Linked DNA regions of Homo sapiens. The protein of the gene in region 3 interacts with the protein of the main gene of each other region in a pairwise test. Each region holds a gene or a part of one and is shown on either strand. Other genes may lie near its edges. The genes, in order: DSCAM, TSPOAP1, RAPGEF4, SLC22A7 and ZC3H11A.

The links.
Region 1: the proteins of RAPGEF4 (region 3) and DSCAM interact in a two-hybrid assay, tested with the Homo sapiens proteins (one large-scale study listed by BioGRID and IntAct).
Region 2: the proteins of RAPGEF4 (region 3) and TSPOAP1 interact in a two-hybrid assay, tested with the Homo sapiens proteins (one large-scale study listed by BioGRID).
Region 4: the proteins of RAPGEF4 (region 3) and SLC22A7 interact in a protein complementation assay, tested with the Homo sapiens proteins (one large-scale study listed by IntAct).
Region 5: the proteins of RAPGEF4 (region 3) and ZC3H11A interact in a two-hybrid assay, tested with the Homo sapiens proteins (one large-scale study listed by BioGRID and IntAct).

Annotation. Positions count from the first base shown.
Region 1 is NC_000021.9:40,012,947-40,019,174, reverse strand, and holds part of DSCAM (cell adhesion molecule DSCAM isoform CHD2-42 precursor), read left to right. Parts: intron 1-5,788; coding exon 5,789-6,141; 3' UTR 6,142-6,228. UniProt on the Homo sapiens protein: Cell adhesion molecule that plays a role in neuronal self-avoidance. Promotes repulsion between specific neuronal processes of either the same cell or the same subtype of cells.
Region 2 is NC_000017.11:58,311,775-58,318,002, reverse strand, and holds part of TSPOAP1 (peripheral-type benzodiazepine receptor-associated protein 1), read left to right. Parts: intron 1-1,462; coding exon 1,463-1,578; intron 1,579-1,870; coding exon 1,871-1,980; intron 1,981-5,280; coding exon 5,281-6,111; intron 6,112-6,228. UniProt on the Homo sapiens protein: Required for synaptic transmission regulation. It probably controls the recruitement of voltage-gated calcium channels to the presynaptic membrane, and modulates neurotransmitter release.
Region 3 is NC_000002.12:173,010,969-173,017,196, forward strand, and holds part of RAPGEF4 (rap guanine nucleotide exchange factor 4), read left to right. Parts: intron 1-3,495; coding exon 3,496-3,646; intron 3,647-5,380; coding exon 5,381-5,469; intron 5,470-6,205; coding exon 6,206-6,228.
Region 4 is NC_000006.12:43,302,790-43,307,907, forward strand, and holds the end of SLC22A7 (solute carrier family 22 member 7), read left to right. Parts: intron 1-295; coding exon of another isoform or gene 296-482; exon of another isoform or gene 483-1,242; intron 1,243-1,248; coding exon 1,249-1,455; intron 1,456-1,881; coding exon 1,882-1,936; 3' UTR 1,937-2,433; coding exon of another isoform or gene 2,434-2,464; 3' UTR 2,465-2,749; downstream 2,750-5,118. Other genes in the region: CRIP3 (cysteine-rich protein 3), read right to left, coding at 3,025-3,086, 3,278-3,335, 3,430-3,524, 3,657-3,728, 4,823-4,954, 5,050-5,107.
Region 5 is NC_000001.11:203,825,497-203,831,724, reverse strand, and holds part of ZC3H11A (zinc finger CCCH domain-containing protein 11A), read right to left. Parts: intron 3,427-6,228; coding exon 3,303-3,426; intron 2,275-3,302; coding exon 2,071-2,274; intron 1,946-2,070; coding exon 1,829-1,945; intron 1,603-1,828; coding exon 1,522-1,602; intron 65-1,521; coding exon 1-64. UniProt on the Homo sapiens protein: Through its association with TREX complex components, may participate in the export and post-transcriptional coordination of selected mRNA transcripts, including those required to maintain the metabolic processes in embryonic cells.

The DNA.
Region 1 (6,228 bases), on a different chromosome or scaffold from region 3:
CTTAAGCATATAGGAGGACAATTAGAGAATCCAGGTCCTCAGAGGCTTTGTTGATGAGCACATGGGCTGGGGTTTTAAAGAACATAAGTGCCTGTAATAACAGAGCTTACCGCTGACTACTCTGGTGCTCTCTTCTCTGTAAGTGCATTAATTATTGAGAGAACTCATTTGCAGCACGCACACAGTTGAAAGGGCTACTTTGGACGCTAATCAGAAAATACACATTGTTGAAGGGAGCTAATTAGAGAATCACACAACTTTGTAGAGCTTTGCCTGAAAAACTGGATCAATCAGAGATATTGGATATTCAGAGATACTTGTCAGACCTGCAATAAACAAATACATGTAGGCATTGCATGTAAAGATGTAACACTGAGCTGTTTCCATTAGGAAGGATTTTTATTTCTCATCTGTCCATTTCAGTGACTGGAGCCCTCTTGATAACTACATCTGAAGTGGGAGCCCCTGCAGGCAGGATGCAGATATTATGAGTCCTATCTTTTGATTTCAAACACGTTTCTTCCTTCCAATCTAAGACCTGCGCATTCTGCAGTCCAGCCGGGACCACAATGCTATTACTTTGTGGAGGTTTAATAAGCCCTGTGCATTCAATGGGGAGTCACTAAAATAGAGATTTATCCCCAAATCTGTTGCAACACATTACAAATATGTCAAGCGTTCGTGATTGAGTCGGGTCTCAGAAAGAGCATGAGGCATTCTTGACCTATATATTTAAAGAACCCTGGAGGTAAATGTCTGTCCCATTTCCTCAAATATACAAACAACATGATAAAAATAATATTGAATAAAAATAATTTAAAATTTAAAATAAATAAATAATAAAATTAACAATTTGTTTATCAGATTCTTAGGAATAAAGACATAATCACTTTCAGGAGATTGAATGTATAAAACTACAAATCGCAAGACTGGTCAATTAAGGTGTATTGATTCACATACAAAAGGATGTTCACATTACAAAAGAATTATTCAATTTTTTCTTAATGACAGCTCTGTTAATGCTTTCATCACTTTTTTTGCAAATAATCCCTGGTTAGAGAAGACTGAAGAATAACTACCATAAACGAACATTAGTAATTTTCAATGCCATCAAGTTTCATAAAGTTTTAAAAACTCAAATTCTTTCAGGAACAAAGCTATTCTATATGGCAAGAGATTCCTGAACCCTCCACATTAGTGTCTATAATGGGTAGGCCTCATGCCATTATATTTTTCTAAGCCAAAGTTCAGATGCATCAAGTTACCAAAACCCTTTTTACAAGAATGCCAAATTATGTAATTCCTTCCTATAAGAATGTTATGGGCCAGGTGCGGTGGCTCACGCCTGTAATCCCAACACTTTGGGAGGCTGAGGCGGGTGGATCACCCGAGGTCAGGAATATGAGACCAGCCTGACCAACATGGAGAAACCCTGTCTCTACTAAAAATACAAAAATTAGCCAGGCGTGGTGGTGCATGCCTGTAATCCCAGCTACTCAGGAGGCTGAGGGGGGAGAATCGCTTGAACCGGGAGGTGGAGGTTGTGGCGAACCGAGTTGCACTCCAGCCTGGGCGACAAGAGCAAAACTCCATCTCAAAAAAAAAAAAAATGTTATGGCCCATTTATTGTCTAGGTATTTATTACTGAGCTTCCCTTGGATCCAGTTGACAGTAGGAAGCCAACGTTGAATTAGAATGCCTTTAATTTCAGTGAGCCCAGTCCAGTGTCGCTGGGGTCATTTAGTGAATTACATGCTGCCATTCCCAGTGAAATCATATAACTACTCATCATCACTTAGTAGAATAAAGATATCCTGAAAAAGCTAAATGGAGTTTTGAATCATAAATCCCAAGTGGTGCAACAATGTAATAACACAATGACAAAGAAATCATTTGCTGCATTTCCCAAAAATAAGGTCATTGCTCCTGTTGTTCGCGGAAAAAAATTTTCAAGACGGGTAATAACATTTTGAAAATTTGTATGCTCATTTAAATTGTATAAAATGCATTTTTAGGGCTTGATTTGGCCATATTTATTTTTAGTTCTCTTATACTTTTTTTTTTTTTTTTTGAGATGGAGTTTCATCCTTGTTGCCCAGGATAGAGTGCAATCGTGCAGCAACCTCCAATGCGCAGGTTCAAAAGATTCTCCTGCCTCAGCCTCCTGAGTAGCTGGGATTACAGGCGTGTACCACCACGTCCAGCTGATTTTTCTATTTTCAGTAGAGACGGGGTTTCCCCATTTTGGCCTGGCTGGTCTCGAACACCTGACCTCAGGTGATCCATTGCCTAGGCCTCCCAAAGTGGGCGGGGATTACAGGCCAGTTCTCTTATACTCTTGAATAGTCCTTTCCTTCTGTTATGCTGGTTGTTCTTTTTCTGTGGGTAAACTTGAAGGTGTTTCCTAAGGTTCAGGCTTTAAACACTGTCTAAACACATATCACTTTCATTGCCCCGCTAGCAGAGCAGCTGGCTAATGGCAGCCCTCACTTGGCTCAGGTGGTCTCAGATCCCCTCAGCCTGCACCTTCGGGGCCTATGGGTCCAAAGGGGCTGGATGAGGAAGGCTCAATTAATTATTGTTAGCATACAGTAACATAAGGAAAGCAGGGGATATTTTGAAGCAAAAGAAACAAGAATGTTCAGTTACTTTAGACTCAGAAAACGAGCAGTGAGTCATCCTAGAGCTACGTTTCTATGATAAAAATACCTACTAGATATCTTGTCTTGAATGTCCCCAGCTGCATCAAACTCAGCAGGTCTGAAACTAAACCCTTCATCTTTTGTCATCAAAGTACGATCTTTCCCCTATACACCCTTTCACAGTTAGTGATTTCACTGTCCACACAGTTTCCTGAGCTTAGAGCCTGGGAAGGAGTCACCCCTAACCCCTTCTCCTCTGTCACCACTCCCACTTGTCATTGACTCTGAAGCCACCTTCCTTGGACCCCCTTCATATCTCACAATTTAATTCCCTCTCTCACATCCCACAGCTGCTCCTGAGCTCAGACCATCATCATATCTCTCTCCCTGCACATCCTTTACCCTGGGCCCTCGCTCCAGGACCACACACCACCAGCCCATTCTCTAGACAGAGTTTTGCACCTGGTATGTCACGAGTTACAGGTGTGCCAAGATGGTGAGTCCTTCAGACCTCAAGGTGGCCAGAAACAGCTCCCTGGGTTCATCCCAGTGTACTGCACAAATACCCCTTGTCTGCCTGTTCCTCAAAAAGTGGGAAGCACTGGGCTGGATAAGGCACACTGTCTGTACCAAAACAGCAGAAACTCAGACCCAGCGTCAGTCCAGCTCAAGTCAGGCAGTGTTGGTTGCAAAGTGGACCTGGTGGCTGGGCCCTAATTGTGCTCATGCTTTGCAAGGAGGTGATGGGATATATTAAAGCCTTGAAACAGGGCCCTGAAGATGGGAATGAGAAGGAGTCAAGGCCAGGTGGCTCATGTCTGTAATCCCAGTGCTTTGAGAAGCTGAGGCAGGAGCATCACTTGAGTTCAAGAGTTTGAGACCAGCCTGGGAAACCAAGCAAGACCCTGTGTCTCCAGAATATTTTAAGAATAATAATTAGCCAGGCATGGTGGTATGTAACTGTAGCCCTAGCTACTCTGGAGGCTGAGGTGGAAGGTTTGCTTGAGCCCAGGAGTTTGAGGCTACAGTGAGCCATGAATGCACCATTGCACTCTAGCCTGGGCAACAGAGCAAGACTCTATCTCTTCTTGTTTAAAAAAGAAAAAAAAAAAAAAGAGTCAAGAGATATTTTGCCGGTAGAATTAACCTGGAGAGAAAGGTGTCAGTGAAACCTCTGAGGTTTCAAGGATGGAAGGATGGTGATAATGTTACACAAGATGGAGCACACAGGAGAGAAGCAGTATTTGGGATTGGGAGGGGATGGGGTTGGCCTTCATTAACTGAATTGGTAGACTGTGGCCTTCAGAATTCCAGATGGACACTCGTGTGGAAATGCCTAGCAAAGCACCTAAAATTCACATCTAGGGCTCAGGAGAAAGAGCAAAATGGAAAAGATAGATGGGAATGTTATTTATAAAGCAATGAGGAAAGCAGCCAAGCCTTCCGAGAGAGGCCTGAGAGCAGGCCACTGAACACTCCGTATTTAGAGGAAAGACAGAGAAAAGGATCCAGTCAAGGAAAGTGAGAAAGGGTGGCCAGAAATGTAGGCAGAGATCTGGAAGACCACAGTGCCCTGGCAGCTGAAAGGGCCAACAACAAAAATATCAACGGCATCAAATGCTATAGTAATGCAGGTAGGAAGAGGACGAAGAGGAAACCAGAGAATTTGGCAATGAGAGGTCAGGGTGACCTTTCAGTAGCTGATGGTGAAAGAAGCTGTGTCAGTTCAGGTTTTTGAGAAGCGCCTAGCAAGACAGATTAGACACACAAGGAATTTATTGGGGAAATTCTTGTGAAGAAGGAAGCAAAAGGAAGCAGGAGGTGGCAAGGAGAGTCTGGAGACCATAACAGAGGTCCGACACCTGTGAGAGGAGAAGGCGAAGGAGGGATTGGTTGGAGGCACGTCAGGCTGCGGTGCACTTCTGAGAAGGCTGCAGTGAGGCTGATGGGGTATCCCTGAGCAAAGGATGCCTGTTAGGGAGATCCTGCATCGGGCGGGGACGGCCATGAGAAAAGCCCTGTCACGCTTGTCATTGGCTTGCAGCATCCCAGAGAACACATGCCTCCCTTCCTGCAGCAGATGCTCTTGGTTTTTTTGTTTTGGTTTGGGTTTTTTGTTTGTTTTGTTTTGTTTTGTTTTGTTTTGTTTGAGTCTTGCTCTGTCACCCAGGCTGGAGTGCAGTGGCATAATCTCAGCTCACTGCAACCTCCTCCTCCCGGGTTCAAGCGATTCTCCTGCCTCAGTGTCCCCAGTACTGGGACTACAGGCGCCCACCATCATGCTTGGCTAGTTTTTGTATTTTTAGTAGAGAGGGGGTTTTGCCATGTTGGCCTGGCTGGTCTTGAACTCCTGACCTCAGGTGATCCTTCCGCCTCGGCCTCCCGAAGTTCTAGGATTACAGGCATGAGGCACACCGTGCCCAGCCAGCAGATGCTCTTGAAGGAGACCTGAGGTTATGTTTGCGTGGCACCACAGAAGCCAGAGTGACCATAAGCAGGAAGTAGAAACACTAGAATTCTGGTCTAAGCTGCTGTCATCTCTATACACAGCATGGCTGAAACAGAAGAGCCACGCAGAAGTTAGCAGGTAGGCAGGGCCTGGTAAGAAGGCCATAAGCTGTGGCGCTTTCACCCAAAGCCATCATGAAGACCCATAACTAAGTGGCTGGCCAAGGTCACAAGGTTTCATAGAATTGCCAGGACGAGAGCCAGCTGTCCATCTTCGCTTGGCGTCCCTGGCTCTCTCCTCAAACCCTGTGCTCTCCCTGTACTTCCAATCACATGCGGGGTTTGGTCTATCACCGTTCGTACCCAGTGGACACTGATGCCTTTGATGTATGTTTTTCTTTCAACGATGGTGTGTTGAAGGATTCTGTTACCTCCATTCCTCCATTTCTGTACAAGTAAGTTAATACAAGTAAGTAAGTACTGTAGGAAAATGAGCTCCTCCCGCGCCCAGGGAGGAGGTAGGAGGACGATTCCACCTGTCTTTGTGGTGAGCGCTGAAGGAGGATCTTGAGAAAGGCACCTGTGTGCAGCGGCATTCTCATCTCTAAAGCCCGCATGGCTTCCCGTGTGCACACAGGACATTCTGCCCATGTTTACCAAATGAAGACACCAACTAACTACCCTGTCTTTCCTTCTAGGTGACCTCATACATTTGCCTCCATACCTTAGAATGGACTTTTTGTTAAACCGAGGTGGTCCAGGCACCAGCAGGGACCTGAGCTTAGGACAAGCATGCTTGGAACCTCAGAAAAGCCGGACCCTGAAGCGCCCCACGGTCCTGGAGCCCATCCCGATGGAAGCCGCCTCCTCCGCCTCCTCCACGAGAGAAGGACAGTCGTGGCAGCCGGGGGCCGTGGCCACATTACCTCAGCGGGAGGGAGCAGAGCTGGGACAGGCAGCTAAAATGAGCAGCTCCCAAGAATCACTGCTCGACTCCCGGGGCCATTTGAAAGGAAACAATCCTTACGCAAAATCTTACACCCTGGTATAACAGACAGCATGACTGGACAGCGGTTGTAAATACAATTCAAACAATTCAATCAAAGCTACCTTTTTTTTACGGAATTCCAATATTTAT
Region 2 (6,228 bases), on a different chromosome or scaffold from region 3:
ACACTTGGGCACCAGGATCTGCATAATGAGACTGTTCCTAAGAGCATCTGTAGTGAAAGCAGGTGGTTGTATGAGAAAGCACATGTTCCAGGATTCAAATCCCAGCTTTGCCTTAGGCAAGTCACTGAGCCTTTCTGGGCTTCTGTTTCCTTATCTGAATCTTGGAGCTAATAAAACCTGCCTTCTAAGGTTGTTGTGAGAGTTAAATGAATACGGAACCTGCCTGTCTCAGTGTGGGGCACACAGGATGTGTGCTCAACACGGGGCAGCTGTTATTATTACTAAGCTCCTGGGCATCACTCATAGCTCTGGTCGTCAACTCATCCTTCTTTCTACCCACAAACCCCAGAAGGTGGAGGAGGCAGGTCAGAAGCAGCTCTGAGAGCCAAACATTCAGAAAGTGGTAGAACGAAGCCCTGGGCCTCTATTGCCCCCTCGTGGGATAGAAGGATGGTGCCAGCTTTGGATGTGGTTGTGGAGAGGTTGCCCACTTGGTCCCCTTCTCCCAGGCATTGGCAGAGAAGAGAAGACAGCCTGTTCCCCAGGCTACCCCAGCAACCTCAACAAGGGTCAGAGAATTGGGGTGCCCTGAGGTTGCGGTGCCCTGGGCTGTGGGCCGGGCAAGTAGACGGGAAGTTCTGAGTTCCAGAGCTGAACAGCAGACACACTGTCACTCGGCTAGAAGCAGGGACCCCTCAAGCTCCTTCTGCCTCCTTTCTGCCTCCTTGCTTCCAGCGATTTACAGTTGGGGTGCTTTGCTGAGGGGTTTCTTTTTTCTTTGTTTTTGTTTGTTTGTTTGTTTGTTTTTAGACAGGGCCTCGCTCTATCCCCCAGGCTGCAGTGCAGTGGCGCAATCTCAGCTCACTGCAACCTCTGCCTCCTGGGCTCAAGCAATCCTCCTACCTCCGCCTCCCAAGTAGCTGGGACCACAGGCATGCACCACCACACCCAGCTAATTTTTGTATTTTTAGTAGAGATGGGGTTTTGTTATGCTTCTCACGCTGGTCTCAAACTCCTGGCTCAAGCAATCTGCCCTCCTCAGCCTCTCAAAGTGCTGGAATTATAGGCGCGAGCCACTGCACCTGGCAACTTTGCTGAGTTTTTACCTTAAGGAACCAAACCAAACTTCTGTTGACACCCACTCCCCACACCAGCATGGCCTGGGCCCCTCTGAGATGAGGGAAGTGGCTTTATTTCCTGGCGGGTGCAGTAGAGGCTCAGGGAGGGGTCTGGGTTATCCCCACTGCCCCTGCCCAGGGCAGCTGGGCTCTGCCAGGACCTGCTCTCTCAGGCACTAATTTAGAGAGCATCAGGGGGTCCTTGCCACTGCTCCTGTGCAGCATGTATGTGCTCATTTTCCCTCCTTAAAGCAATAGGTCCTCTGGCTCAGCCTGGAAACCTGCCTGCTTGGCGCTTGGCCCCAGGCCCTGAAGAGAAACCAGCCCTTTCTGTTTGCCCCCAGGTGGACACAGCCAGTGAGGTAGAGGAGCTGGAGGCAGACAGTGTCTCCCTGCTCCCAGCTGCGCCAGAGGGCAGCCGGGGAGGAGCCAGGATCCAGGTCTTCCTAGCACGTTATAGGTGGGTCCCTCACCCTCACTGCCCCCTAGCCCAGCCCCAGCATTTGGGGTATAGGAGGGGGCCGGGTGGAGCTGGAGACCTCTGGAAGTGGTGGGGGCAGTACAGGACACAATGGACCTATTCTAATAACCTAGTTGGGCCAAGGTGGGTGCAGTGAGGGCTCAGCTTTGCTGGTGGTGGACAACCACAACCAAGTCTCCGTAAAGGCTCAGTGCAGTGGGAGAGAGAAGACAGGACATGGAAGTGGAGTGTAGGTCACTCTCCTCCTCCTCCTCTGTGCCTCCCCTAACAGCTACAACCCCTTTGAGGGTCCCAATGAGAATCCAGAAGCAGAGCTTCCGCTGACAGCTGGCGAGTACATCTACATCTATGGCAACATGGATGAGGATGGCTTTTTTGAAGGTAGGAATGTAGTGGGGGGTCATTCTGTCCATTCCCCTGCCTTTGAGCCCATGTTCCCAAAGACGGATATCCATCCATCCATCCATCCATTCATCCATCCATCCATCCATCCATCCATCCATCCATCCATCCCCTCTGCCCAGCGTGCTCAGCCCACCTTAACTTTTTGGTCTCAGCTAAAAGGCATACAGAGACCTAGTAGCCACTGGGGAAAGAGAAAGAAGGGAGTCTGGCTCCAAGCAGGACAGGACAGCATAGTCCAGATGGTGGAGAGAGTGTCACAGGAGATTTTGGCTAGATTCATTTTTGTGTGGATAGTCAGGGCGTGGCAGTGTTTCACAGTAGTGACACCTGAGGTCAGGTATGCAGCACAGATTTGATGCTGGACTCCAGTCAGGTATGCGAAGGAGGAATCAGGGTAAAGATCCCAGGGGAAGGTGTTCTCAAGCGGTTAGCAGCTGTCAGGGCCCAGGCAGGGTGTCTGCTTCAGGGAGGTTCTGCAGCTCCTGTGGGGAGTCAGAGGGCTGATCAGGCAACTCAAGGCAGATGCCTCATTGAGACTGGGCACTATGGGCCTGCGGAAGACATGGCCTTGGGAGACTCTCTCAGGGTGGCTCTGGCCTGGGTACCACCAGGCTGAGTCCATCAGCAGCAGAGAGGATGGCACTGTGTAGAGAATTGGATGGGGCATGGACAGGGCAGGGCGAGAGCCGCAGCTGTGTGTAGAGATTTAGGAACAGGCTTAGCTCTGAATCTGTAACCCTGGAAGCTTGGGAGCCTGCTCAGTTTCTTTTCCCTGGGTCCTCTGCCTGTTACTTGAGGAGCTGCTGAGACCCATGGTACCTGGCTTTGTGGCCTAAACAGTTAAACTCCCTACAGGGGTAGATTATGAAGATCAGAATTAAAAAGCTTTCAGGAAAATAATACTTTATAAATGAAGAAAAAAAAACCCCACCCAAATCAAAAACCAAAACCCAAACACTTTATTTTTGGAGGGGGCAGCAAAGGCATAAGTATTAACTAACCACAAATGACTAGAATTTGAACTCTGCGATCTGGGATAAATTGGGATAGATGTAAATGCCACCGGGGGCAAGATGCCGTATTCCCTGTCCAACCTTAGCTAAAGGACTGCTTCGTCTATGTCTGGGCCACCTAGGCTGTTCTCAGCTGCATGGGCTTCTGGAGCATGTGCCTGACTCCGGCCCAGGCTCCAGCTTCAGCCCTGCAGGCTGGAGATCCTCTTAGTGTGAAGACTCCTGCCTTTGTCTCCCACTCCACAGTGCTGGTGCTTATGATCGTTTCCTAGGGCTGCAGGAGCAATTACCATAGAGTGGCTTGAAACAATAGACATTTATTCTCTCACTGGCCTCTTCTGGAGGCCAGAAGTCTGAAATCAAAGTATTGGCAGAACTGCATCCCCTTGGGGGCTCTAGGGGAGGTTCCGTTCCTTGTCTCTTTTAGCTTACGGTGGCTCCAGTTGTTCCTTGGCTTATGGCCACCTCACTCCAGTCTCTATCTGTGGTCACCATTGCCTCCTCCTCTTAGTGTTTCTCCTCTGCATGTCTCTTATAAAAACACTTGTCATTAGATTTAGGACCCACCCGGATAATCTAGGATGATCTCATCTCAAGATCCTTAACTTAATTACATCTGCAAAGACGCTTTTTCCAAATAAGGTCATGTTCACAAGTTCTGGGGATTAGAACATGGACATGTTTTTGGGCGGCCACCATTCAACCCTCTACAGTGCTTATTATATCAGTGAATTTATTGACAGTCCCTCTTGTTTCTTCAAGTTCCTTACTTTTTTTTTGCCTAGCATAGGCAGAGAGAGAGAGGGTGGAGGTGAGGGGCACAGATGACTGTTGGGGGAAACTCCAGGCCCCCCTGCAGCTCAGACCTGCCTACACTCACCCCTCTCCCCTAAGCCCTGGCTCGTGCTCCCCCTTCCTCTCAATAAAGCACACCAGCTACCAGCTGTCTGTTTCCTGAGACCTTTTTTTCTTCTTTAAATTGACCGTGACATTACATGCTGGGTGCCCAGCTTCCTTGACATCCCTCAATCAAACAACAGCAAATGTTTTAAAATACTCTCTTGTCAAGTCTTCAGGAGAACTGATGCAGGTAACAAAACATAACCATTGGTGGTTGCCTGGATTGACTGCTGTCAATCATGCTGCTAGACACAGGCCTGCTGGGGCTCCTGATCCTTCTAGAACTTACAAGTGACTATTTCACTAGCACTTACTTCATTTGTCTCTAAAGATTCCTCCTTTACCCTGCTGAGTTGGTTGTCTCTCTCTCCCTCTGTGGATGTCTGCTGTTCACAAAGAGAAGTTGAGGGGCACCCTGGCCCCTATTCCTCAGGCCCAGGTAAAACCCAACCAGCAGAATTTTTTTTTTTTTTTTTTTGATACAGCATCTTGCTCTGTCGCCCAGGCTGGAGTGCAGTGGCGCGATTATGACTTCTAGCTTCTGCCTCCCGGGCTCAAGCAATCCTTCCACCTCAGGCTCCTGAGTAGCTGCAACTGCAGGCGTGCAACCACTCCCAGCTAATTTTTGCATTTTTTGTAGAGATTGGGTTTTGCCATGTTGCCCAGATTGGTCACAAACTCCTGGGCTCAAGCGATCTGCCTGCCTCATCCTCCTGAAGTGCTGGGATTACAGGCATAAGCCACCATGCCTGGCCAGTTTTCTTATCCTGACCTGCTTATTTTTTAAAACTTTAATATGAAATTATGAAATTATTATTGCAATTTTTAACACAAAAGTTTTCAAATGTACAGAATATATTTGAATATTTATATAGCCAGCACCTAGATTCAACAATTGTTAAAACTTTGGCATATTTGCTTTATATGTAGGTTAAACATGATTTTAAAAGCATTATGATATTTTACCTTGAAATACTCAACATGCTTACTTAGAACATGATATTCTCCTCCATCCTTGCAGCTTGAGTGTCACCTGGTGGCTTATTAGAATCACAGAATCTCAGCCCCATCCAGACCCAACCGAGTTAGAATCTGCATTTTAACAAATCTGTAGGTGATTCATATGCAAGTTAAAATTGAAGAAGCACTGTCCTATAGAACCAAAATACTATTATCAGACCTATCTCTAATCCAGATCTTTACTGCTCTTGTCTTTTAAAAGAATTGACAGTTAAATGTTGATTTGAATCAAATGCTGAAGATCACCCACTAGCAGTTGCTAAAATGCATTTATTATACCGTTTTTTCTTTATCTCCTCTCTGTCTTCCCCTGCCCTGCCCCTTCCTGTCCTCCTCCTGCCAGGAGAGCTCATGGATGGCCGAAGGGGCCTGGTCCCTTCCAATTTTGTAGAGCGTGTGTCGGATGATGACCTCCTGACCTCCCTCCCTCCAGAGCTGGCCGATTTGTCCCACAGCTCAGGCCCTGAACTCAGTTTCCTGAGTGTAGGTGGGGGTGGCAGCAGTAGCGGGGGCCAAAGCAGTGTGGGAAGGAGCCAGCCCAGACCTGAGGAGGAGGATGCAGGGGACGAGCTCAGTCTGAGCCCATCACCGGAGGGCCTGGGCGAGCCTCCTGCCGTGCCTTACCCCCGCCGTCTGGTGGTCCTCAAGCAGCTGGCCCACAGCGTGGTGCTGGCCTGGGAGCCGCCTCCTGAGCAAGTGGAGCTACACGGCTTCCATATCTGTGTGAATGGGGAGCTGCGACAGGCCCTGGGGCCTGGGGCGCCACCCAAGGCCGTGCTGGAGAACCTGGACCTGTGGGCCGGGCCCCTTCACATTTCTGTCCAGGCCCTGACTAGCCGGGGCAGCTCTGACCCACTGCGCTGTTGCTTGGCGGTGGGTGCCCGGGCCGGAGTGGTGCCCAGCCAGCTGCGGGTCCATCGGTTGACAGCCACATCTGCTGAGATCACCTGGGTGCCCGGCAATAGCAACTTGGCCCATGCCATCTACCTCAATGGGGAAGAGTGCCCACCTGCCAGCCCCAGTACCTACTGGGCCACCTTCTGCCACTTACGGCCTGGCACACCCTATCAGGCCCAAGTGGAGGCTCAGCTCCCACCCCAAGGGCCCTGGGAACCAGGCTGGGAGAGGCTGGAGCAGCGGGCTGCCACCCTGCAGTTCACCACACTCCCAGCAGGTATGTGGGCTTGGGCCCTGTTGTCCAGAACACCCAGGAGGCCAGGCCATGGGTGACGGAAGAAGGGGACCCTGATCTTATTTGCGTTATCAGGGAAATAGCAAATTGGGCAGGTAT
Region 3 (6,228 bases):
CGCTTCCTTTTATTTTCCCAGGGGTAAAAATACTGAACTTTCGTGAGAAAAGGGAGAAAGCCTTTCCCAGTCCCTCCGGATTTGGTCAATTCTATCTCCCTAGAGGCTGTGGGGTTCTTCATCAAAGACAAGGGGTGCTCAGCCCTGGTGACTAAACATGCTGAATCAGCTGCGGGAACCTTGGAACTTCAGCGCGCGCGCGCACACACACACACACACACACACACACACACACACACACGGAATCTCTTTCCCATTAGGCTTTTTGCTTTCCAGATGCATTTATTCTTAATAATTTCATGAACCCAAGCACTAAGGTCTAGTTGCTATAGCTGCTGGTTAGGATAGTGGGGGTGGGAATAGTGGAAAGAGCCCTGTCTGAATTTGCAAGCCCTGCCATTTATTCACTCAACAACCTTGGCCAGATCTCTTCTCTCTGAATCTCCTTTTCCCCACCGGTAAATATTTCCTCCTCAGGTTTGTAGAAAGCATCATTTGATAGCATAAGAATATTGACTTATTTTATGAATTGTAAAGCTCTATACACATGTTATCATAACAAGTAGGAAAGAATCTTTCCTCTCTCTCTCTCTCCCCCCACTCCTCCTTTCTCTCTTACACATGTGAATACCTCCTTTCCAACATGTTGTCCAATGTAATATTTCAGATGAATAGGACTGTGCCCATTGTATCACCAGAACCTAGCATGGTGCTTTACTCAAAGTAGTCGGTTAATTAATAATTAGTGAATCAATTGGATCAATTTGAATAGTTTCTTTGCCTAAGTACTTGTAAAGCATTTTGATGTATTTTCTCTGAAAAGCATATTAATTCATTTGAAAATATATTTATTTCTTAAAAACCACATTAGCAGACTCCGTCTCAAAAAAAAAAAAACCACATTAGCACCTTAATTGTCCTATCTTGGGGTTATTTTTCTAAATTGAGGCTAAGTGTTCACCACTCTATTACTACCAGCTCAGTAAAAGCTTCCCTTTCCTCTCTATGCTGTTTCCATCTTTGAGTGATTCAAAATATGCTCATGTTGCATGTGTAGTGAAATATTTTTAAGATTGTAGTTTATAGAGTAACTTAGGGCACAGTGTGACATTCTTTTAAATTGGCATGATCTGAGAGAGAATTAAATTTGCTCATTTTTCACAGTACAAGGCCATCAGAAAGGTTGTCTTTCACAGGCACTATCACTTAGACTTAGAAGAGGGACTAGAGGGAAGAAGCCTAGCCTCAGGTACCCGGTGAGGAACACGCATGGTCCATAGTGGCATCAGGATATTTGGGACAGCAGTCTAGGGAGCGAGCCCAGCCTAATGGGAGCTTTGACACATACCGTACTCAGAATTCAGAATCTCCACTGACTCTTACATTTATAGGGGTTGGCATTCCTCAGCCCACACCCCTACTCCCCACCTTGGCCATTCTTACTTTCTCCATTTGGCTCCTATGCCATGGAAATGAAAAAGATAGCACCTGCCAAAGCCTGATGTCATCCAAGTTTCTGCACAAACACAAGATACCATAAAACTAAACCAAAGAAAGCACAGTGGCAACGTAGCATTGTATTTTCATTATGTTAGTTTGTGGCACCTATCTGATTCTCCTTCGGTTCACCTTGCCTTAGCGTTATTAAATGCGGTAGCTGAAAGAGAATTTGGAAATGATTTCTTCTCACCTCCTCATTTCATGGAGAGTAAATGGAAGTCTACAGTGGCTAAGTGACTTACACAATATCACATAGCTAAATGGTGGCAGCTAGAGGACTTGAACCCAGATCCTCCCACTCTCGGGTGAACCAGTACATATTTTTCAATCAGTCAAGACTTTCCTATTTGGTACCTACCATGCATCTGACTATGCTCCTACGTGCCATTAAAAAATGGTCATAAAATATAATGTCCAGCATTGCAACTCTTTGGAAAGAAAAACTCAGTTATAAATGCATGCAAGCAAGAGACCAAAGAGTTAATCAGAAAAGAAATAATTTTCACATAAAGCGATCTTTCTTCCTTTCTTCATTGTGAGCTGAGAGAGGATTGTAGCAATACAGGTTGAGCAATTTTCTTTTTTATGAATCTCGTGCTCAATTTATGAAAGCCATTTTGCAACCCATTTACATGCAGTAAACCTTTGCCTTAAAGTTCTGTCATTTACCTTGATCATGATTATTTATAGTCCTTTTAGACAAGGCTCTTTACTGGTTTAGCTCTCAAGCACAGCACTGTCACAAGCCAGTTTTCTACGTCTTTCAAGGCAGGGTAGGAAGCTAAGACAGGGCCAGTCTTGTAGCTCGCTGTGAGGAATGGGGGCTTTGGGTAATGGGAAGAACACTAGTTGGCATCAGGAGTCTTGCATTCGCAACCTCTGCACTCTCACTCTGTAATCCTGGCCATTTATGCTTCTTTAGTTTCAGTTTGTTCACTTATAGAAATGGAGCGACACTTTCATCACAAGGCTATAAAGTGGAGTTGAAGTGAAGTACTTTGTGTGCAAGTTATATTGTAAATAGTGAAGAGTAAGTTGTTTTATGAACTAATTATCTATAATATGAACTATAAATCATTGAAAAAGGAATGGTGTGTCTAACCTAAAATATTTCTTGATTACCTGTGATGTTGTGCCTCCTGTAGAGCATACAAGAATGGACCAGGGACCTTTACTCTTGGCACATAGGAGACTCTCAATCAGTACTTGTTGCATTAATGAATAAATACAGTTTCTGGGTGAAAGTCAGTATCCTAGGCGTAGTGTAGAATACAGGACAAATGACCATCATCCCAAGCCTCAAGGTGCTTACAATTAAGATGGTAGCCATAAATGTGCAAAGAGCCAGTAAGGTAAGTCATGGTTCTACACAAGAGAAGAAGATATGGTGTAAAAATGTGTCTGAGGCCCTCACCAGAGAATTGGTACAGCAGGAGCCTTTCCTCTTCCTACCTCTGGGTGAGTTTATCTACCTCCAGCCTCTCTTGCCCACCCATGCACTCTTTGTATCAGCCATGGTCCCAGCAGGACTAGATGCCCTGCTGGGCATTCAGTTTTACTGAAATGCATGTAACAAAGGGGATTACAGAGATTCGGGCAGAATTTTGGAAACCAACAACGGGTGGAAATGCACCCAGAGAGAAGCAATGGCAAGAAACATTACCACCCAGAGTAGCAAAGGGCAAGGCAGATCCTGGCAGAGAATGACAGCTAGAGCTAGACACAAGAATCCTTGTCCACACCAAGTCCAGGAGGAGTCTGTGAAAGTCTAATCCCTTGGGCAACTATCAGGCCAGAGTCAGCAGGAGTAAACAAGGAATTGCATGCATTCGGCACAGACACTTTCTGTGGGGTTTTTCATGAGGGCCTAGGGGAGGAATTCTATCCATCTAAAAGCCTGGCTTTCTGAAGCTGGGATCTGTCACTCTTTACCTTTGAAAGTAGCATGTGAAATGAGTGTGAAATGGCTCAATTTCTTCCTTGACTCCTCGGCACCTACCACGCACAGCCTTCACAAGGTACAGAACAGGAGAAAATGGATTATGCCCTCAACAATAAGAGGCGAGTCATCCGCCTGGTTCTACAGTGGGCTGCCATGTATGGAGACCTCCTGCAAGAGGATGACGTGTCTATGGCCTTCCTGGAGGTAGGCAGGGGTCATCTCTTCCAAGAATATACTGTTGTCCTGCAATACAGGGACCTACTTATAGGCTCAGCAGCTTCCCTGGAGAGACCGTAATTGCAAATGCTAGACTTTGTGAACACATTCATTCATCAGAAAGGAACTACAGAAAAAGTAAGGAAAAAATTTACCCATTATTCTGCCATTCTGACTCCCTAATGGGTAGCATTTTCATGTATTTTCATCTAGTCTCTTTTTCTTTGTATGTTTTATCTTGTAGTCACGTAGCACCCATCATTCTGCAGGCTGCTTTTTCCATTTATTTGATATAAGGATTTTTCTGTCAGTACAGTCCTTATAATAAAAATTTATTTACATCTCCTGAAGTAATCAAAAAAATATCTAATGACCATTGAGTAGCCATGTCACAGATATATTTATGTGTTCCCTTATTGTTGAGTGTTCACATCATTTCCAGTTTTCACCTTCCTAGAATAGTAGTACGGTAAAAAGTCTTGTGCAAGTGATTCTGTCCTTGATTACCTTCCTAGAAATGGGATTACTAGATCAAATGGTAGATATTTTTGAGTGGAGTGGAGCAGATCATTTATTTAGGAATTGCTAGAACTGGAAATGGTAGGCTGTGAAAGTGGTTCATAAACACTGTTGAAAGCTGCACTTCCCCGTTCCTTCCCGTAGCTCTAGCCCCAAATTACAGCACTGATTCTGACATTTAAGCTCAATTAGTCGCTCTCCCCTCCAAAATTTGGATGAAGACCTGACTTCTGTTCAGGCAAAAGGCAATGTTACTTCCGTTTCAAACTTTTTCAGTCTGTGTTCTAAAATTATAAATTATCCAAAAGAAACATACACCGTCTCTCCTTTCTATTCATATCATTTCACAGCCAGAGGTGCGAGGCAGTGAGGAAAGATGGACCGAGAGCATCCCTCCAAGCTGAGGAATGAAGTATTTTGAAAATGCGAGGAATGGCGGTAGCTTGGGGTCATACATTGACTCATGGCCTCTACCCGCTGAGTACAGGACCATTTTGTAGATGAACTAAAGTGGTGGTGTAGCTGGCACTGCCATGGTTCTCACCTTCTGCTGCAGAGCAGGCACACCTACAGCTGCAGGGTCAGGACAGTTCCCAGAAGGGCATCAGAGAGTCCTGAGTTGGTGGCACAAACTCATCATAAATTCGCTACAGTGCTGAAGACCATGCTGCATCTTACCACCAACCATGACCCAGAATGAGTGACACCTAGTCAATAAACAATACATACCAAAATAATGTGAAAACGAACATTAAAATTCCCCTGAGAAAAATGAACTAAAAAAAGCACTCTTTTGTGGACTCCAAAATGACCCATTTCAAAACATTGGCTTTCATATAAATATCATATAAACAGTTCACCTGCAATTTACTTTGAATTGAATTTTTATTGTTGTAAAATAGATATCTAATATAAATTTTCCCATTGTAACCATTTTTAGGTGTATAGTTCAGTGGCATTCATTTCATTTCTGATATCCGTGCAGTCATTGATTGCCACTATTTCCAAAATTTTTTCTCATGGCCAATTTTGAACTTAGACATAGTGTAACATTTTCTTCTTTGTTCTTCCTCCAGTCCATGAAGCCATGGTCTGGAGATGCTGGTGAAGCAGATGACATAGGGACACATCTTTATTGCTCTTGACAGAATCATGTGCCTTTTGCAGTTCTTGTTAAAAGCCTGTGACTTTTGCCAATTACAGGAGTTTTATGTATCTGTATCAGATGATGCCCGGATGATTGCTGCCCTCAAGGAGCAACTGCCAGAGTTGGAGAAGATTGTCAAGCAAATGTAAGGAAGGGCTTGACTGTGGGGGTGTGCTTTCATCAAGTAAATCTCAAAAAGTCCTTTGCCCACAAGAAAGGTTAAAGCTGGTCTTTCCATAGCCATGCCCCGCTTGATTTGATTTAAGCAGACTGGGCTGAGGGCATAGGTGGTGCAGTAAGGCCAGAGGAACAGAAGGACTGAGATTCTGTTCATTCTGTGCTAGAGGGCTGCCAAAAGATAGCCTGGGAAAGAAAAGATCCTCCTGGGTGGAGTCCAACTCAATAAACCTGGGTCCCTTAGGTTCAAGGCAGTGAATCTGGCAATAAAATGGCCAGCGGCATTTAAAGAAAGTTTGAGGGCAACTACTTATATGGAAAATTCACTAACTGCTGCCAAAGCTGTTGGTGGTGAATATTTGTGTCCTCTCAATGAACCAGAAGGTTTTCACATGCTATTACTTGAACTATAGATTAAATGCAGTATCAGAGAGTGAGTGTGCTGCTAGATAGACTTTGAAAGCTAGAAATCCTGGCTTTGAACATCGGTTCTGCCAGGAATCTGCCTGTGACAAGAGCTGATATCTTTGCTGTCTACCCTTCTGCTTTGATCTATTACTATTAAAATGAGGAAGCTCATATTGTCTCCTGAAAGGATTCTGTGATTGTGATTTCATTTTCTAACATAAGATTAGTTATATACAAATAAGGCAATTTAATAGTAGCAATGGTATTAAATAATGTGCTTTCTCTACTTCTCGTAGCTCAGAAGATGCAAAGGCACCAC
Region 4 (5,118 bases), on a different chromosome or scaffold from region 3:
GGTATGGGGCTTGTTAGTCACGTGTCTTAACCAACACTTCTACATACACGCACCACAACCTGGTCTCTCACTCATTTTTTTTTTAATTTTAATTTTTGGTAGAGACGGGGTCTTGCTATATTACCCAGACTGGTCTCAAACTCCTGGTCTCAAGCGATCCTCCCGCCTCAGCCTCCAAAAGTGCTCGTATTACAGGCACTATTACAGGCATGAGCCACCGCACCCAGCCTCTCACTCGTTCTCCACACTACACCCAGAATACAGAGCTAATCAGGGCCCTCTGTGTTTGCCCTAGTCTTGGAGAAGGCAGAGCATCTTATCTTCTGTACTATGTGACCCTGAGCCACGTCAGACATCCTCTCTGGGCCTCCTTAAGAAAACAACCCCAAGGCCGGGCACTGTGGCTCACGCCTGTAATCCCAGCATTTTGGAAGGCCAAGGCGGGCGGATCACTGAAGGTCAGGAATTCGAGACCAGCCTGACCAACATGGTGAAACCCTGTCTCTGCTAAACATACAAAATTAGCTGGGTGTGGTGGCGAATGCCTGTAATCCTAGCTATTTGGGAGGCTGAGGCAGGAGAATCGCTCGAACCTGGGAGATGGAGGTTGCAGTGAGCTGAGATCATGCCATTGCACTCCAGCCTGGGCGAGAAACTCTGTCTCAAATAAATACATAAATAAAAGAAAAAAATTAAATAATAATAATAATAAGAAGAAGAAAACAGCCCCAAGAAGCCCCATCCTGCCCACCCCCATCCCATTCACCCCTGGAAGGCAGAGATGCCCTTGAGGACTGTCCCAAGAGCAACCCCTTGAAAGGCCCGGGGTTGGGGGGGTCTTTCAGCTAGCTACTGAGAGGTGGGAAGAGGAAAATTCTAGGCATCTGGTCATGTTTAGAAAGAGGTTTGCCTCCTCGAACAACATGGCAGGGCCTGTACAAACTACTGACCTTCTTCCTTCCACATCACCCTTTCCTTATCTCCCAGTCTGGTGACTTGTCTTCTCCTTTAGTGATACCTAATTGGTACTCTGTCAGAATGGGGGCCCTGTCCTCTGGTGGGTGCTGGCTTGAGGTCTCCTGGCCTGAAGGTGGGTGGGAAGACCAACTGAAAGAAGTCCTAGTTTTCTTAGCTATATGGGGAGAAGGGAGTATCAGGGCCTGCCAGCCCTGGAGGGAAGCCCTGTGGGGCATGACTCCAGGTAGGTGTGAACACCATCTGCCTCCCTCATCCTCTTTCTCTGAACAGACAGACAGGGATGGGGCTGACTGCACTGGTGGGCCGGCTGGGGGGCTCTTTGGCCCCACTGGCGGCCTTGCTGGATGGAGTGTGGCTGTCACTGCCCAAGCTTACTTATGGGGGGATCGCCCTGCTGGCTGCCGGCACCGCCCTCCTGCTGCCAGAGACGAGGCAGGCACAGCTGCCAGAGACCATCCAGGACGTGGAGAGAAAGAGGTGTGTGCACAGGACTGTGTCTGTGTACGTGTGATAACATGCATATGGATGCAGGTGCTCAGATACCTGACACCTTAGGATTCAGACAGGAAACTATATCTGCACATGTGTACTTGGTGCATGTATGTGTGCGTGCACAGGTGAGTGTTTCAGGGTGCATGATTGGGGGCATGTAAACTGCAAGCATAAATGTGTACATGAGTGTATGAACACAAATACATAAGGTTGTTCAGGAAGATGTGTATGTGTGCACACTCAAGTATGCCTACACATCAGGGGTGTGTACAAGCATGTGTGTGAGTCACTTGTACAGGCGTTTGTATACCAGGAACTGGGGTGAGCCCTGGGACAGCCCTGATGGGGCAGGCTGGGGTGGTAGGCTCGGGGATTAAACCCCACCATTGCTCACAACTCCTTCCTCCCTAGTGCCCCAACCAGTCTTCAGGAGGAAGAGATGCCCATGAAGCAGGTCCAGAACTAAGTGGGAGTGGAGGCAGGCCCTCCACAGAAGCTCTGCAGCAGGGGCTGGGAGAGCAGAAGGGCAGGCCCTGCAACTCAGGCTGGGAGTATCGAACCCTCTGCCTAGGGCCGGAGTTGCTGCCAGTACCCGCTCCCTCTGCTCATCCATCCTTGATTATTTGGCTTCTAGGAACAGTTGACTTCCCAGAATGCAGTGGGCTGCTGGGCACCCCTCTCACGGTTGGGGAGGATTCTGTAAATAAAGGTGCCCCTTGGGTTGGGGCAGTGGTGACGAGCTGTGGGAAGAGCCCTGGATAGGAAGCCACTGAGTCTGCCCTGGGCTCTGATAAAACCTTCACCATTAACTTGCTGTGTGACCTTGGGCATGTGGCTTTCCCTCTCTGGGCCTCAGTCTGTTCATCTCCCAAATGGATAATGAAGCCTCTTGGGAGGCCCTACCATAGGATCTGTTGCCATGCTCAAATGAGTTACTGAATAAGGTGCTTCTGCTTCTTCTAGAGATGGTGCTAAAGAAAGGACTAGCATATGAGACTTCTGGTACCAATGGGGCTGGTGGGCATGCTGTCCACTGTGTGGTGCTAGGACTGCCAATGCCAGGCCCAAGGGACAAAAAGAACAGAGCTTTTTGTTCTCATGGCTGGCCCTGCTACCTCCGAGGCACCCTGCAGGGCAATGCATGTCATCCCAACCCCCACACTCCCCATCCTCCAACCCACTGGTCTCATGCCCAAAGAAGAGTTGAAGGCATGGGAGCCAACATTTTATTGAAGAAGCCACAGAGGCTGAAATTCAATAAACACAAGTTTTATGAGTACCTTGAAGCTCCAGAATGTGCTGGGGAAAGGGGTTGTGATGGCCAGGAGGAGGATACCCTTCAAAACGGGCTGTTCCCTAACCAGATAGAAATGGGAAAGGGAAAAAATTGGCAGAGAAAGTCTAGACTCTCTGGCCTACCATGGAGCCTAGGCCCAGGCCCCCAAGATCCCACCTTCCCCAACCCCCATGGGACTGGAGATTTTTGTAGCTTCCATTGGACCATGAGGGGCATGATGGGAGGCCTGAGTTAGGGTGACCTTTTTTGTGAGCGTCTCATTTGAATTTTATCTTCACTGGGTCATAGATGTAGCAGCCCACATCGCCAATGTTCACACCTGAGAGAGAGAGCCCTATCACCAAAGGCCCTGGGTCTGTGGTGCAGGGTTCAGGCCTAGAGGGAACTTGGTGGGGGGGCCAGGGTATGCTTAACCACAGGGGAAGTTGTCCACACATACCCACAGACCATGTACATGCCATACTTCAGGCATGTACATGCCATCCCAGTGTCTGGGATGGGGCTGCCCACCTTTGGGGCCAAACAGGTAGCCGTAGCAGGGGACGTGGCAGTAGGGGACTCCATCATGCTGAGACACAGAGAGAAAGAGAGCTGTCTCAGCCTGGTTCTCTTCCCATCTCCAGCCTCCTCCCAACATAACCACTCATTCCTGCCCTGCTCACCTCAGCATGACTCCCAGCAGTCAGGGTCTTGTGGCAACGCTGGCACCTCAGACACGGTCGGTGCCAATTTCTGCCTAATGACATCACCTTCTCAGCTGGTGGTGGAAAGAAGTGGTAATGCTTCCATTCTAGGGGTAGAGTAGGGAGACCTACCTGCCTTGGATCACCTCCCTCCCCCTTGCTGCCCACCCTGTATCCCCCTCCCCAAGTTTTCCACTGTTACTTACCAAAATAGACGGGCTCCCCACAGCCAGGGCACAGCGAGGTCTCCCCAGTGAATGTCTTCATATGGGGAGGGCCTTTAAAGGGGAAGAGGCCCTGGCTATGTCTGAGGTGGAGATGCCCACCAGCACCTGCCTGCATATGGTGCTGTCCTCTTTCAAAAGCCATGCTCATTCCAGAGTGCCCCACCCAGGCGCCCAAGAGTCTGCCTTCTACAGGCCCAGAGCTGAGCCCCCTCTGACTCCACCTCCTGCCCCATCCCTATGTGTATTAGGGACTATCTGCTTCCTTCTCCTGCTTCCTTTTCATCCTCCCAGGGGCTCACGTACCCACCATCCCAACCCTGTTAGCAACTCAATCCTCAGGAAACTTGAGCTGATATAGGAGCTGGCCACAGCACGGGTGTCAGGTGTTGGGGAGCACAGTGTCATTGCCTACTTCAGGGAATGGAGGGAAAGAACAGGGACCAGAGGAGAAAAGTTGAAGAATATGAGAGGCTGGCCTTATCCCAATGACTCCTCTCCTTTAGATCATTCCTTCCATGGCCCTGGCCTGGGACAGACCTAAGTTCCTGGCCAGCTTTGCCTCTGACTAGCTTTGTGGATGGACAGTCATTTGCCCTGTCTGGATCTCACTTTCCTCACCTGTAACACACGAGGAGAGGGGATAATGCCATCTGCCCAATTAACCTCTTTTTTTTTTTTTTTTTTTTTTTTTGAGATGGAGTCTCGCTCTGTTGCCCAGGCTGGAGTGCAATGGCATGACCTTGACTCACTGCAACCTCCGCCTCCTGGGTTCAAATGATTCTCCTGCCTCAGCCTCCCAAGTAGCTGGGATTACAGGCATGAGCCACCACACCTGGCTAATTTTTGTATTTTTAGTAGAGATGGGATTTCACCATGCTGGCCAGGCTGGTCTCGAACTCCTGACCTCATGATCCACCTGCCTCGGCCTCCCAACAATTTACCTCTTAACTCAGCAGCTCACATGAGGGAATAGAAAGAAAGAAAGAAAAAAAAAGCGGGGAGTAGATAGAGAAGACTTTGCCAAGAATGAAGTTGTGAGAATGTGAAGCAGAGGGCTGGATAGGAGACTGCCACCTGGCCCAACCTCCGCTCCAGCTTGGGGAAGGGTCGGGAGGAGGACTGGGAGGAGCTGAGCCCAGCCTTACTTTTCTTGCCTTGGGGGAGGCCAGTCCTTGGCCTGGGAGGGCTGAAGCTGCTGGGGCTGAGAGGAGTGGTGCAGCCAGGGCTGGGAGTGGGGGGATTGTACAAGTAGGAGCCTACACCACCAATGTTCACCCCTGAAGAGAGAATAGGGGAGGTCAGGCTTGAGCCCCCAGCTCCCAGCCACAAGGAGGGTTCTGCTGACCCATGGCCCCTTAAGGCTGGTACTTACCCCTGGGTCCAAAGAGAGCCCCATAGCATGGCTTGTGGCAGTATGGCCTCCCATTGTGCTGGGCACAAG
Region 5 (6,228 bases), on a different chromosome or scaffold from region 3:
TCTTTTTCAGGACCTGGAACGGGCTCAGGGTGGAGTAAAAGACTGGAAACTCCTGAAGAACCCTCTGAATAAGGCAAGTCAAAGAACAGCAAATAATTTATGGAAAATAATGCTATCCCAAGTCAAAAAATTTGTTTTTGTAACCAGTTAAGTCCAATACAGACTGATATTATGACTATAAGCCAATCAGCCTTTCTGTATCTGTTTGCCTACAGTCAAATGGAGTAGTGGTGAGGGGAGCCTTGGGCATGATGTGAAAACAAAATATAAAATTATTTTGAGTGACTTAGGCACCCAAACTACTTTTATTTACCAATAAGGCTAATATTTACCAATAAAGCTAGTATTATTCTAAAATTAACCTCAGAGGTACACTAGCCATCAGGTGTATCAATCCAACCTATTCTATTTAATCATCTGAAAACACAACTCCAAGGTTGCTATAAAGCAAGCCTTAAAAGAAGGTTTTTAGAACCATTTCTCTCTATATATACTACACTTCACACTATAAATTTTAAGGCTGGGGGCTGGGCGCAGTGGATTACCTGAGGTTGGGAGTTCGAGACCAGCCCAACCAACATGGAGAAACCCTGTCTTTACCAAAAATACAAAATTACCCAGGCGTGGTGGCGCATGCCTGTAATCCCAGCTACTCAGGAGGCTGAGGCAGCAGAATAGCTTGAACTGGGAGGTGGAGGTTGTGGTGAGCAAAGATTGCGCCATTGCACTCCAGCCTGGCAACAAAAGCAAAACTCTGTCTCAAAAAAAAAAAAAAAAAAAAAAAAAAAAAAAAAAAAAATTGGGGGTTGGAAATACAGAGCAATCAGGCTGACGTAAGCTCCAGAAGAAAATCCTAGCAGCTCTTGAGGAAGAACTCTTCTACTAGAAAATGACGTTTTTCCTTTTTTTTCTTTTTTGAGACAGAGTCTTGATCTGTCGCCAGGCTGGAATACAATGGTGCGATCTCAGCTCACTGCAACCTCTGCCTCCTGGGTTCAAGCAATTCTCATGCCTCAGCCTCCCGAGTAGCTGGGACTACAGGTGCATGCCACCCCGCCTGGCTAATTTTTTGTTTTAGTAGAGACGGGGTTTCACCATGTTGGCCAGGATGGTCTGGATCTCCCAACCTCATGATTCGCCCTCCTCGGCCTCCCAAAGTGCTGGGATTACAGGCGTGAGCCACCACGCCCAGCCTTTCCTCTCTTAATATAATTTCTTTTTAACCACTATAAGAACTTACAGAATTAATATAGTTCTTATATGATGTTCTTCAGAGCTATATTTTTCAAGATATACAAGTTCTTTCAGATTCTTTATTGTACCCAGCTCTGAAAAGTTAGGGACTGAAACACAGCTGCAGTGAATTAAAAGCAACCACAATTTAAATAAGTCTGTGTTTTACTTCAAACAGGCCATGGAAATGAAAATCTATTTGCTCATTTTGGCTGTTGCTTCTAGAAGCGTCCTTAGTATTCTTCCCTAGCAACATACAACTATCCATGCCAAAACGTGATGACTTACCACCTTGCTTCTTAGATTTTTCCTTCATTTTCTTTGACTTAATTTCCTCAAGAGTTTTTATTCCAAAATTCAAACATTCACCTGAAAATTCAAATAGAAATTTTATGAGGAACGGGAGCCTTTTCATCTTTGTATTTTATCTGTACATAGCAGGCATTTATTTTTGAATAAATGATCAACAGAAACTAAGTATAGGTAAGTATGCGTGTAGCATGGGAAAAAGAAGAGGGAGGTCAATGATTGTGAACTAAATTTCAAAGGTAGTTTCAACAGTGCTATAAGAGGCACCAATCTAGCCTCTTCTTACCTTGCTTTATATTGACTGCAGGTTTCCGGACAGAAGTCACTCGTAATCCATTGTGAACTTCAGGAGTTGGTTGCAGGGTAGGTGTTTTGGTTTCATCACCTTCCTCAGAAAACTGATCTATATATCAACATTTAAGGCAAATTCACAATTAAAAATACGCCTATAGCTTTAATCCTGATTCTGCCCAATTCACTATGAGACCCTATTTATTTGCCTTAAAGAAGGAGCCAGACAGAACTTACCATCATCATCTTCATCATCATCTGCAGCATTAATTACAACTGGTGGATGCGTGGGGCTAGGAACATTTTCGGAACTTTCTACTTTCATAACGCTCCGCAGCTGAGGGGAAGGATTGGACTGGACAGACAATTTGTTCTGCTGAACTGAAAGTTGGCTAGCCTTCACTTCCTCTTCTGGTGACTCAGGCACAGTGGGCAACACAGCTAAACGCACAAAATCAGTCATAAATTAAAAACAGAAGATACAACCCCAACTTACCAAAAATTCCTGACCACCTATGAAAACTATAGTGTATTTGTCTTATGAGCATTTATACTAAATTTCCTCATTTAAGTTCTAAAGTCCCAGGGAGGGAAAAGATGTGCTTTTACCTAATTAACTCTCCACTAACTCTCCACTGTACATAAACACAAAGTGGGCACTCAAAACAGAATCAACAGAAGACTAGAAGAAGCATAGTACCTGTTCACAAATTCTAGACCTTTAATTTTAATACTGCAATTCTAGGCTTTTTGCTCAGCAAAGAAGTAGCTTCTAAGACCCAAGCATATGACACTTACTTGAACCAAACCAGAAAGGAATAAGTCTACTTTTTTCCCTTAAATTGAGGTAAAAAGATGTAGCCATCAAATTTTAATCACGTAGCAACTGTGGCTTTTAAATGGCCAATTCCACTTTTAAATTACTTTAAAATGAACTTTGGGAATAACCACTAGCTTTTTAGTTTTATTTTAGATTATAGTCTAGAGTAGGGTTGGCAAATATTTTCTGTAAAGAGCCAGTTAATAATTTAGGCTTTGTGGGCCATATGGTTTCTGTCTCAACTACTCAATTCTATAGCACTAGCACAAAACTGATAATAGAAAATATGTAAATGAATGGGCAAGGCTATATTCCAATAAAACTTATTTTACAAAACAGGCAGAGGACCAGTTTTGCCAACCTTTGACCTAGAAAATCAAATTTATTTTGAAAACGTTTATGGGTCTGATAAGAATATGAGAAATGAAGTAAGTATAATAACTTAAATGGCATGCCAAGATATATAATGGTTCTAAGGCCAAGGATAAATCATTTAACCTTAATAAGATTCAGTTCACTTATCTGTAAAGTGGAAATAATTCTGCTGTTTCACAAGACTGAAAGGAGTCAATGTCTGAAAAGTACTGTTGTACAGTGTGCATAATAGGTGTTCATTTGATATTCTTTTAAAATTAAAAACTGATCTCACTTTTGCTCGGAGGTAGGAAAAGGCCATCAACATATCGTCCTCTATTGTGATGGAAAGCGCAGTTTAATTTTTGACATCCTGTTGGCTGATTTTCCCAATAACAAGGAATTTCACTGCGTTTTTTCTGTAAGAGGGAAAAACACATTGCTTTCAAATAAAACAGTGATACGTATATTCATGTGGCAGTTTGTTTTCTAGACAAAGTTCATACAGGGTTCAAAAATCCGAGGCATGTGAGATGAGATGATTTTTAGAAGGAAGAGAGATTGCTGAAAATAACATAACTTAGGCATGATGGAGAGCTGAATGGAGCAGGAGAGTAGTTTATGTTATTCTTTCCCTTTTTACCCTCATCCTGGAACCCCTAAAATGTCTACACTTAATTTAGAGAAGCAGGATGATACAGTAGTTTAAGTTTATGAAATCAAAGATAACGGTCTGAATCTCTATTATGTTACTTATTGGCCAGGTGGCCTTGGATAATTCATGCCTCTAAGCCTCACTTTCCTTAGCTATAAAACGGGAATAAATGGTTTCTTATGAAGAGTACATAAAATAATGTATATAAAGCACTAAGCACATAGGTCAAACTCAATAAACTGCAGTTATTACTTGAAGCTGAGAGTTCAAGGGTTTGAGAAAATTCTTCCCATTCATGAATTCTCAAAGTAAGGCACCTATAACAACACACTAAGGATGTTAGGTATCCTTCCCAAGTCACCTTACTTTTTTTTTTTTTTTGAGACAGAGTCTTGCTCTGTCACCCAGGCTGGAGTGCAGTGGCGCGATCTCCGCTCACTGCAAGCTCCGCCTCCCGGGTTCACGCCATTCTCCTGCCTCAGCCTCCAGAGTAGCTGGGACTACAGGTGCCTGCCACCACACTCGGCTAATTTTTTTTGTATTTTTAGTAGATAAGAGGTTTTACCATGTTAGCCAGGATGGTCTTGATCTCCTGACCTCGTGATCCGCCCGCCTCAGCCTCCCAAAGTGCTGGGATTACAGGTGTGAGCCACCGCACCCGGCCAGTCACCTTACTTTTATAAAGGAAAATTGGGAGAAAAAAAAAAAAAAAGAATACCTGTGCATCTAGAATAGAATAAACTGCTGAATCATAGGATGTATGTCCTAGAAAAATATATACATTAGTTCTCCAACAGCTGTGTATAAGCAATGTTCACAGCAATATTATTTTCAATAGCTCTATAATTTTGCAAACCCATGTGTACATCAATACTAGAATGGATAAAGAAACTGTAAAGTATTCGTACAACAGAATATCATCTAGTAATGAGAAGGAATAAACCATTGCTATACTCAATGCCACAGATGTGAAATGAAAGAAGCCAGACACAAGAGTGCATACTATACCATTCCATTTATGAAAAGATGAAAACAGTCAAAACTTCTCCATGGTAGAGTAGTTGGGATGCTGATCAGCTTTGGGGATGTGGTTAGTAACAAGGGGATGAAGGGGAAGATAGATTACTGCTAATACTCTATTTCTTGAACTAGGTGCTGATCAAGTAAGTATAATCACTCTATGAAAATTCTTCAAGTTGTAAGATTACGATTTTGCACTTTTCTAGATACATTTTAATAGTTCAAAAAAGGGGGAAAAAAGATATGAGAAGTACTCCCAAAAACTAACTAACCTCCGATGAACTGCATTATGTCGAATCTCTAATCATCATAAACAGCCTATGGTTTAAAATTCCAGGAAAAAACACCAGCATTGAAATTTAAGAATATGGAGAAGAGAGACAGAGAAACAATAACCATTACAAAAAGATGCTTAAATGTATCAAAAAGGGCAAAGGTCAAAATCTACTATATTGAGAGAGTGATAAAATTCAATTATACACTGTTTTCAGGGACGTGGAAGAATCAGGCAGTCTCAAACACATAATGGAAATGTAAATTTGCTCCACATCTCTGAAAGGTGATTTGGCAAAATCAGTTTTTTAAAACTATGTTCTAAGTTTATGTCATATGCATAATTACCTATTAATATTTTTAAAGTATAATTTTTAAAAAGAATTAATTATTATTAATCAATATTTATTTATTAATTTTAATATTATTGATATTTTCTAAAAGTATAATATTTTTTAAAAGTATAGGCTACTGTGGGCACACTACCTATAGAGTGGCCCTGCTCCACAAGGAGCAGTAAAAATAAAGTAAAAATAAAAGTACAGCAAATACCGTTACTTTCAAAGAACTAGGAAGAATTTATTAGTCCTCTGTCACACCCGAAAGGTAGATGTAATAGCTACCACTGTTTTTTAGACAGGAATAACAATTATTCAATTCTTCCTTTCTCAAGGCAGAACCTAATGCCAATCTTCCTTGTTCCTAAGCCTACCTTTGCTTAAATTTTACATCTTTCCTGGAAGCAATTTTCAAATTACTGAATGACTTCTGTAACAGTATCTTCTATACACAGAAGTCACATGACATTTATTTGATCTGTTTAATACATTTGCTAGATTTTGTTTCTAATTGAAAAGTAATATATGTGCAACGAAGACAACTTGGAAAATGGAAATAAATGCCAATTATGCTATTACCCAGAGAATCACTTATTTTGGTATGAGTTTTTACTTGTAAAAAAAAAATCACAAGTGACTATATGCATACTAAAAAGAAAGGTATTCCATGTAATTCTGTACATTTTTCCTTAGTAATATCCTCCACATGCCAGGCGTGGTGGCTCACGCCTGTAATCTCAACACTTTGGGAGGCCAAGGTGGGTTGATCACCTGAGGTCAGGAGCCTGACCAATATGGTGAAACCCCGTCTCTACTAAAAAATACAAAAATTAGCTGGGCATGGTGGAGGGCGCCTGTAGTCCCAGCTATGCGGGAGGCTGAGACAGGAGAATCACTTGAACCCGGGAGGTGGAAGTTTCAGTGAGCCAAGATGG